Regions from separate parts of the Homo sapiens genome. Here region 1 is linked to region 2. Evidence: fine-mapped expression QTL. A gene starts in region 2. The other region holds a variant in brackets. All regions are shown on one strand. Distances are from middle to middle.

Region 1 (4,405 bases), 26 kb after region 2:
TTCTGAGCAGAGAATCCAGCCACACTGTGCCCAGACCTTTGACCTACAGAATTGTGAGATAGTAAGTGGGTTTGCAGTAACTCTGTGGTCATTTGTTATGCAGTAATAGAAGAGGAATACAATGTGAACTTGCAATCTACATGAGGTGATAAGAATAAGTGTGTAAAAGACAAAAGTCTAGAACTAATGGCTAACAGACGTGGTCTGGGTCATAAATTCTGCATTCCATTGTGAGTAGGGAAGAATTTGGAAGGGTGTCATGGGATGGAAGCATCATAGACAAAAGATTCCTGAGATCCATCTTTTCTCGTGAAAGGAAGAAAAGAAAGCATTTTGTTAGATAAGGTGGGACTGGAGCATGGGAAGTTTGTGCCTCCACATAGTTTGAGGTCATGAAGACAAAGACAAGCGAGTGTTTCAAGAATGGGGCAATGGTTGACTGTGTCAAACATTGCAGAGAGGTTTTGATGAGCATGTAGAAGAGACACATGGGATTTGGCTAGGTGAAGGTCATCCACATCTTAAGCAATGCCAATGGACATGATGGGAGTTTAACAGTGAGTTTACCTCCACATTTGTAATCCATTGATATTTGACAAGGATGCCAAGACAATTTGATTGAGAAAAAGTTTTTTCAACAGAGGCTCGGTAGATCTCTAGAACTTATGTAAAAACAAAAACAAAAACAAATGGTTCTGGGACAACTAGCTATCCATATACAAAAGAATGGCATTCACCCTTACAGTAGATATAAAAAGAATTCATAACGGATCAAAGACCTACATGTAAGAGATTAAACTATACAACTCTTAAAAGAAAGCAGGCATAAATCTCAGTGACCATGGATGAAGCAATGGTTTCTTAAATATGACACCAAGAGCACAAGCAACAAAAGAGAAAAATAGACAAATTGAACTTCATCAAAATTTAAATTTTTGTGTTTCAAAAGACACCATGAAGAAGGTGAAAAGGCAACCCACAGAATGAGAGAAAAATTTTGCAAATTATATATCTGAAAAAGGACTAGTATCTAAAATGTGTAAAGAACTCCTACAACTCAGTAATAAAAAGACAACACAATTTAAAATGAGCAAAGGTTCTGAGATATATATTTCTACAAAAAAAGATATACAACTTGCCAATAAGCACATGAAAAGATGCTTAATACCATTAAGGATCAGGGAAGTGAAAGTCGAAACCATAATAAGATACCAACGACACACACACTAGGATGACTATAATAAAAAAGGTAATAAGTATTGACAAAGATGTAGAGAACTCAGAATCTTCATACACTGCTGGTGGAAGTGTGAAATGACGCAGCCACTTTGGGAGACAGTCTGGCAGTTCTTCAAAGAGTTAAACGTAGAGTTACCATGTGACCCAGCAATTCTACTCCTAGGTATATACCCAAGAGAAAAGAAAACATACATCCACACAGAAACTTGTATGTGAATGTTCATAGCAACATTATTCATAATAGCCCCAAATCAGAAACAACCCAAATATCTATTAACTGATAAATGAATAAATAAAATGTATTATCTTCCTTTAAAGCTTGGTATACTGAAAAAGTTGGAATTTGTCTCTTCAGAGGTATCTAATGAATATTACTCTATTAAACATCTTATTGAAATGAACTTTGCTAACCAATTATTAAAAGTATATCAATCTAATACATTTTTCCAAATATTTAAAATCATACCTTTATATATCATGCAAAAATAATGACATGATATTATTTTAAAATTCCTAAAAGAGTTTCTATAGAGTATGTATTAAGATGAAGAGGAGTTCTCAGCTAAAAAGGTAAACACAGCCACAAATGATCTTCAAAATACCACTCTTTGAACACTTAGGATATGCCTGGAACTGTATGTATTAAATGATTCAAAAGCTAACTTGATTCTCACAGCAGCACCATGAGGTAGGTGGCATTACATCCATTCTACAGATGGAAAGCTCCAATTCTGCGGCATTAAGTAGGATGCCTGAAGTCCGCAGTTAGTGAATAGCGGAGTTAGGATCTAAGCTGTAGTCAGTGGGATCCCAAATTAGACTGTTAATTGCCACACTGACTTCTACAAGTAGAAAGTTTCATCTATCTCAGCTGATCCCAGTTGCACCCATTTCCATTTTGCTTTGCACTATCATTTAATGTTACTGCAGATCCCCTTGGGAGAATTTATGCCAAATTCATCATCTGGGTTCTCTTTAATCTGACAGCTGCCACCTTTCCTAAGTGGATATTTCTGCTATTTTTCTCGGGTGTGTCATTTCCTGTCCCTTGTGAGAGGCTCTCTCTTAAGTTACTCTTGTATTGTTTCAAATCATTTTCTGTTGCAGACTTGGAGAGTTGGCATGGAAAATGCTAGAAGGGAAGAATAAAGAG[AGT/T]CTATTCCACATCCAACTCTGCCTCCCTCACTCAGCACAGGCTTTTGAGAGGAGTAGAATAGTTTCCTTGTGGAGCAGCAAAGCCTGCTGAATTAATTTTATGCTCAAAACTCTTCTGAGTAATTATGCCTCTTCGATGGTTTCCACTAGGCAACAGGCTTCAGAAGTAAACTTTGTTATTTTGGCATCATCCCTATTGGTCTTCTGAATGTGTATATGTATTTTTGTATACTAAATTATATTTCATTCCCCCCATTCTCTTTATACCATGAACATATATCTATTGCTATATTTTTAAAACATGGGTTTAATTGAGAATTATACATGCAATGGAAGACACAAATCTTAGGTGTATTCCCTGATTCCCTGATCAATGTTTACCTGTATAAACACCCATGTAACCTCCACGCAGCGTAAGTTATAGACCAGCAGTTCTCAAAATCTTTGGCCTCAGGGATTCCTTAACACTCTTAATATTTTTAAAAAACTCAGAGTTTGTTTATGTGAATTATATCTGTAAGCATTACTATGTTAAAAATTTGAAACAGGAATTTCAAAATATTTCTCAATTCAATAAAAATAACAAAACTGTCACTTGTTAATATATAACCAATATTGTACTATTACAATAACTTTTTTGTGAAACATAACTGTATTTTCTAAAAGTTGGTGGGAGGAGTGGCATTGTTTTACATTGTTGCAAATGTCTTTAACGTATGGCTTTACAGAAGTCATCTGAGTTCTAATGTCTTTTTCTTCATTCGGTCTGTTGTGATATGTCATTTTCACTGCAGTATATGAAGAAATCTGGCCTCCCACAGAGACGGATTTGGAAACAAGAGGACTACACAGACCCTCTGACAGTCTCTTGGGGGACACAATGGCTTGCCAAGGGATCCTTGATACACACTTCGAGAACCACTTGCATAGACCATCACCATCATCCTGGAAGGTTTTTTCAGAGAGGACCACTACTCTGACTTCCTTCAAGATTAGCATTGCCTTTCCTTGATCTTCATGTATGTGGAATCATAAGGTAAGTACTTTCATGTGTTCTACCCTGTGAATATACTACATTTCATCAATGCATCCTCCTATTGGTACACATCTGATTTGTTTCTAGCTTTTTATTATTATGAATAAAGAACATGCTTTTTGATGAACACATACACAATACACTCATTTCTTTTTTTCTTTTTTCTTCTTCTTTTTTAAGATGGGGTCTCGTTACGTATTGCACGCTGGGGTGTGGTAGCTATTCTTGGGTGCGATCATAGAACACTACTTTGTACTCTGGGATTAAAGAGGAGGCATAGCCTTGAATTATATTGTCAGCCTCCCAAGTAGCTTGGACTGCAGGTGTGTATCACCATGTCTGGCTTACACTCATTACTCTTAGAGTGTAATTGCTGGGACATAAGATTGGCAGACGTTTAGCTTAATAGACTTCCAAGCCTTAGAAAATATTTTTACTTTGCTGAATTTTATTTCAGCATATATTATTTAGCATAATATACTTTTAAATTATTCGAAATATATTTAAATACATTCCTCTTATTAATACCTAATATATGCTCCTATATTTTTCTTTTAAGAATTTTGCTTTAAAATCAGTCTAACTACTCAATACCATATATTTCCATTGCTAGACTATTGCATTTAAAAAATCTGTGTCCCATATTTTATGCAATTGGACAAAGTAATGTGGTAAAGTAATTCCCCGTTTATCTGCAATTTTAGGACCCATAACTCAAACAGACCAGTCCGAAAGCAGCTACTTAATATTAGCATCCAAGACTGTGGCAGGAGGTCATTTGAGTGACCAGGGAGCCCAAAGGAAAAAGAGAGAAGGTTTAGAAGCAAACCAAAAAAATGAAAAGACAGGGAGGGGGAGGGAGAAAGTCAAAGAAGAAAGAAGAAGAAGGAGTAGGAGGAGGAGGAAGAAGAAGGAGGGGGAGGAGGATGAGGAGGAGGAGGTGTTTGTCAAATGACAAAGTTAGTTGAAATCATC
Region 2 (4,405 bases):
TTATCTAGGATCAGGCCACGGGTGACGTTTGGGTCCCCACGCCTGCGGTTCCTGGCGGATCTACAAGGCCTGAGACCCAGAAGACTCATGGGCGCTCCCGCCTCTTCCGCCCTAAAGAGCAAGCCGAGGGAAGACTTGGCCTGGGACCTCAAAGCGTGGGACGGTTTCCAAAACCTTGAGGAATTCTCTCTCCAAGCCTGTTCTGCGAGTTCCCAGGCTCCCTCCCCAGCCATGCCAGCCTCCACTCACCACTGACTGCGTCTTTGAAGTGGGTTTTCTCCGAGGAGTCGTAGACAAACTGCACTTTGCTCAGCCTCCAAGTCGCCTCAGGTCCCTTGGACATGTTGTGGCTTTCCTGTTGAGCCGGGGAGGTGCGCTTCAATCGTCCCCGCAGCGTCTGGGTTCTTAAACCTAGGGGCCGCCACTTCCCACACCCACGCGGAGCCTGCGGCCCCTCTGCCCGCTGGGCTCGGAGTTACCTTTACAAAGAGCATTTTGAGTGCATATGCGCGATCCACCCAGAACACTTGCAGCTCCGACTGGCTGTGGCCACAGCGGCCCTTCACCTCAGCTCCCCGGGTCAATGCGATATCGGCCTGTTCTGTGATCAGCTGGGAACACAGACGCCCCGCGCCCCCTCAGCTCGCCCGGCCCCGGGGCGGGGGCTGTAAAGGGCGGCGCGTCCAAACTCTGGGTTGCACGCTTGGGCGCTCCTTTGCGCGCGCGCATCCCAGGTTCCGGGAACATGCGGTTAGATGCTCTACGTGCAGCCCCGATAGGGAAGCGGAGAGAAGGGGGTTTACTTTCAAAGCAGGCAGGGGAACAGAAGGCATTACAAGCTGGAATCCCCATGCAGCATTCGGGAGCAGCCTGCCGGGGTGTGGGAAAGAAGGCGGGCAACCCAGGTCTTCGAAGAGCCTTGAGGAAGGGTGCCCTTCGCCCTGGAGCCCTAGGAGCAAGCTGAGGGGGGGGAAAGATTCCTTACATCTACGTAGTTGCTGGCCCACACATCATAAGGTACAATAAATTTGGCTGCAAACTCTGCCATGAGACACGTCGTCCCATTTTCCCGCACCACAAATATATCTTTTTCAGGGTTAGTGGAAAGGCCTGAGAGATTTTCCACTTCTTGTTCTGCCATGATTTGAGCCATTGTATCTGCGGAACAAACAAAACAATTCCATCAGTTCAGGGCTCAGCCCACGCGTCTCGGGCGCTAGGGTGGGGAGACAGTGCTCTGCAGGCTTTGGAGTGACAAAGTTCTCTGCCAGCAGCTGTGCGCTCTACGAGCCGTTTCTCTAACCCGGGTCTAACAAGCCTCATTCCTTCGCTGTTAATTTATAATGAAAATACAGTTAAAAAAATTAAAAATCCTGACTTTGTTTGTAATATAGCTGGCTGTTTTCTACATCTTGGGATTTTAAAGTAAATATTTCTTGCCAATGCTCTGACCTCACGAAGCTGGCCTGTCTAGGCTCTGTCTGGAATATGCCACAGAGGTGTATGGCTCTCAGGGGAATTCCCTGCCACCGGCGAGGAAGGCCCTCCCTCCTCCCCTAAAAGAAAAAAAGAAAAAACACCGCAAAACATTAAGGGCCATATTTTTTATCTCAAGCTAATTGACTTTACTTTGCCGGCTCTGTTCTCTGCAAAGAGTGCCCGTCCTCTCTCCCAGTCGCCAAATCGCTACTCACGGAACAACATCAGGAGAACTCGAAGTCTGTCGATGCTGGGGACCCCTCTTCCTTGGAGATCCATACTCGCAGTGCCCCGAATGAGGCCGGCTGTGCTGCTGCAGAGGCCGCCAGAGAGGGAATCCCTCAAAGTCGCCGCTGGAGTGGGCCGGGGTGAGCGAGAGGCGGGGGACAGAGAAGGGGGAGGGAGGGAGCGCGTATTCTGTGAGCGCCTAGCTAGGACTCGGTGTCGAGCGCGGCACCGACAGCTGCTGGCAGAGCAAATCGGCTCACTGCGGAGGAAAGGACCGCACGGCGGTCCACGGCTGCGAGTGCTGAAAGCAATCCGATTGTGTGGCAGGAGTGGCTGTGGCTTGGCTTGTGCGGAGGGCCAATGAGATCTGGGGGGACTAAACTTCTCCCTGGGTCTGTTTCCTGTTCTGCAACTGCATCCGCAAAGATGAGTCTGTTCTGAGAAACTTAATACCACCCTCAGCCTTATTAAATCTCCTTACCAGGTACAGTTATTAAGTGGTGTAGATACCTTATCACTGGAGTACTGTCTTCTGAAAACGCATCTGGTTCCCGAAAGAAAACGGTGGAGCAAAAATTGTTGCTGATTCGGGGGAGGAGGGCTATGCAGGAATAGAGAAGGGAAAATGCTATGGCAACAGTTTCCTGAATTTGGAGACATCCCCTTCTCTCCCCTGCTCTCAATGAGCTCATGGGTTTAAAGTTAAATTGACGCCTCCTCGAACGAGGCCATCAGACAATGCAGTAGCTCCATGTGGGCTTATTTTCCTGTGAATTTTGCTCCCGGGTGCATGAGGACTCTGAACTCTGGGGTCACCTACCCTCCCGCATTATACTGTGACCACTCTGCCAAAAAGGGATGCAAGCAAATCAGAAGTTTTTGAGAGTTATCTAGTGTCTCCTAGGACAGAAATTTTAGAATTATGCCCTAAGTAATGTCACATAGTTATGTAAGAAAAACACACACTGATATTACTCTAAAGCCTGTAGTGGAACAGAAGAACAAATACTACTGGGCTAATTCCTGTATTTACATATTTGGTAGCTTGCTTATTTTTTATTTTTGCTCTGTAAATCAGAATACAGCTTTCAAAAATACACATGCAGTCCTCATCAATTGTAGTGATGTCCAAATATTTTATTCCTTAGAAGATATTTCATAATGCAAATAAATGTTGCATCAGTAATATAATGTTATAAAACAATGTCATATTAAAGGGAAAATTGCAAAGTATTTCACCTGCATTATCTAATTTGATTCTCCCCAATCTTAGAGGGTAGGCAAGGAAAGATATGAGTTACTGTGGTTTTACATACCCCAAAACTGAGGCTCAAATAAATTAAATGACCTTCCCAAATGTCACATGGTCAGTTAGAATTAAAATACAAAAATCACATGCTTTAACTCTGTGAGATTATCTTCATTTCTCCTTATATAATATTTTTACTCCATATTTTGACTTCCATAAAAATCTATATTCAATATCAAATAATAATCTGAAATCTGAAATCTCTATCATTAATTCACATTCTTCAAATTTATAGAATGCTGTTTTAAGTATAATCACATTCTGACATATCTGCCACAAAGTATCTATATAATGTTTTTGGCTTTCAAACATATTCCTATATCAATCATTAGATCACTAGCAATTCAAAGTATAAAGTAATATTAAAATTGACATTATATTTTGACATCTTGACTTTTATGTTTGTAGTTCAGTATTTCATCCAAACATTTCTCAAGAACTTTACAAAGATGATTATATATAGAAGAATTGATGCAAATTTTACAGAACTTAACAGAAATGATTTTATACAGAAGATTGATAAAACGTCAGTTCTCATCAGTTGAAAGTGGAAGAGATAACATTTGTATGTGTTACATTTTTTCATGTTAGCAATTATTATTAAACACTTATTTTCCTGTAGTACTGTAAAACTGGAAAACAATGAGACATGTAATAAAGTATTTATTCTCTCTCTCTCTCTCTCTCTCCAGTATTTTATGAGGACAGAAATGAGTAGATTTCAGTCCAGGATTCACTACTTATTATTTTTGTGACCTTCTGAAGATTTTATTTGTTCTCATCTGAAAAATTGGGAAAATAACTCAGGGGATGGCTAGTTAAACCAAATGGGCCAATGAGTATAAATAAACAAAGTACAAATAGATCCATAAACATTAACCGAATACTTACTACTTCCAGTATGCTTGATGCTTTGAAAACCAAAAGATATTTATCATTACACAAGTAGGAGAGACACCTATAAAAGATTTTGACAATTTCTCTTGCAGTATGTTATTGCAGATATCTTCACTATATAAGTTGTTAAAAGATCAACTGAATTAATTCATGATTATCTGCCTTAATAATAAAAGATTAGGTGAGTAGTAGCATTGGTCATTGATCTTAAAATGTAGTAGTTGATTTACAAATGAGATGGTTGTTCCTTTGAAAATTATACCTGATATAAATGATCTCTTTGTTGACACTGGAGAGTGTACCCTAGAGTACTCAAATGGGTTGAAAGAAGAAAGAAAGCAATTTTAACTCTTTTTTTCTGGGGGGATTATTTTCAAAGCACAATCAGTTTAATGACTTTTTTAATATTTAATCTTAAACATGGCTAACAAATGCCCATTAATTTATCATCTTATCCACTGTGATACATTGCAATAGGAGTTAGGTCATTAT

Alleles and levels. Positions count from the first base shown, and alleles are read on the strand shown. Sizes are in standard deviations (SD) of each study's normalised expression.
In carriers of allele AGT in region 1, the expression in esophagus muscle of the gene that starts at base 2,021 in region 2 tends to be higher than with T alone (small effect, 0.30 SD a copy in GTEx).

Evidence for each region. PIP is the estimated chance that this variant, and not a neighbour inherited with it, causes the effect.
Region 1: its variant is the best candidate, but not a certain one, in a credible set for the expression of LAMP5 in esophagus muscle (GTEx, PIP 0.69).

Annotation. Positions count from the first base shown.
Region 1 is chr20:9,486,197-9,490,601 of GRCh38, reverse strand. No RefSeq gene overlaps it. Among named protein-coding and RNA genes, the nearest start is that of LAMP5, 26 kb to the left of the region's middle. The variant AGT/T (reference allele first, on the strand shown) is at 2,393.
Region 2 is chr20:9,512,206-9,516,610 of GRCh38, reverse strand. It overlaps LAMP5 (lysosomal associated membrane protein family member 5), which reads right to left and starts at 2,021. Exons shown (of 6, transcript NM_012261.4): 1 at 1,695-2,021; 2 at 986-1,158; 3 at 480-611; 4 at 250-355. The coding sequence starts at 1,758. LAMP5-AS1 (LAMP5 antisense RNA 1) reads left to right here and starts at 1,613. Exons shown (of 5, transcript NR_109957.1): 1 at 1,613-1,847. RefSeq lists an enhancer at 502-1,086.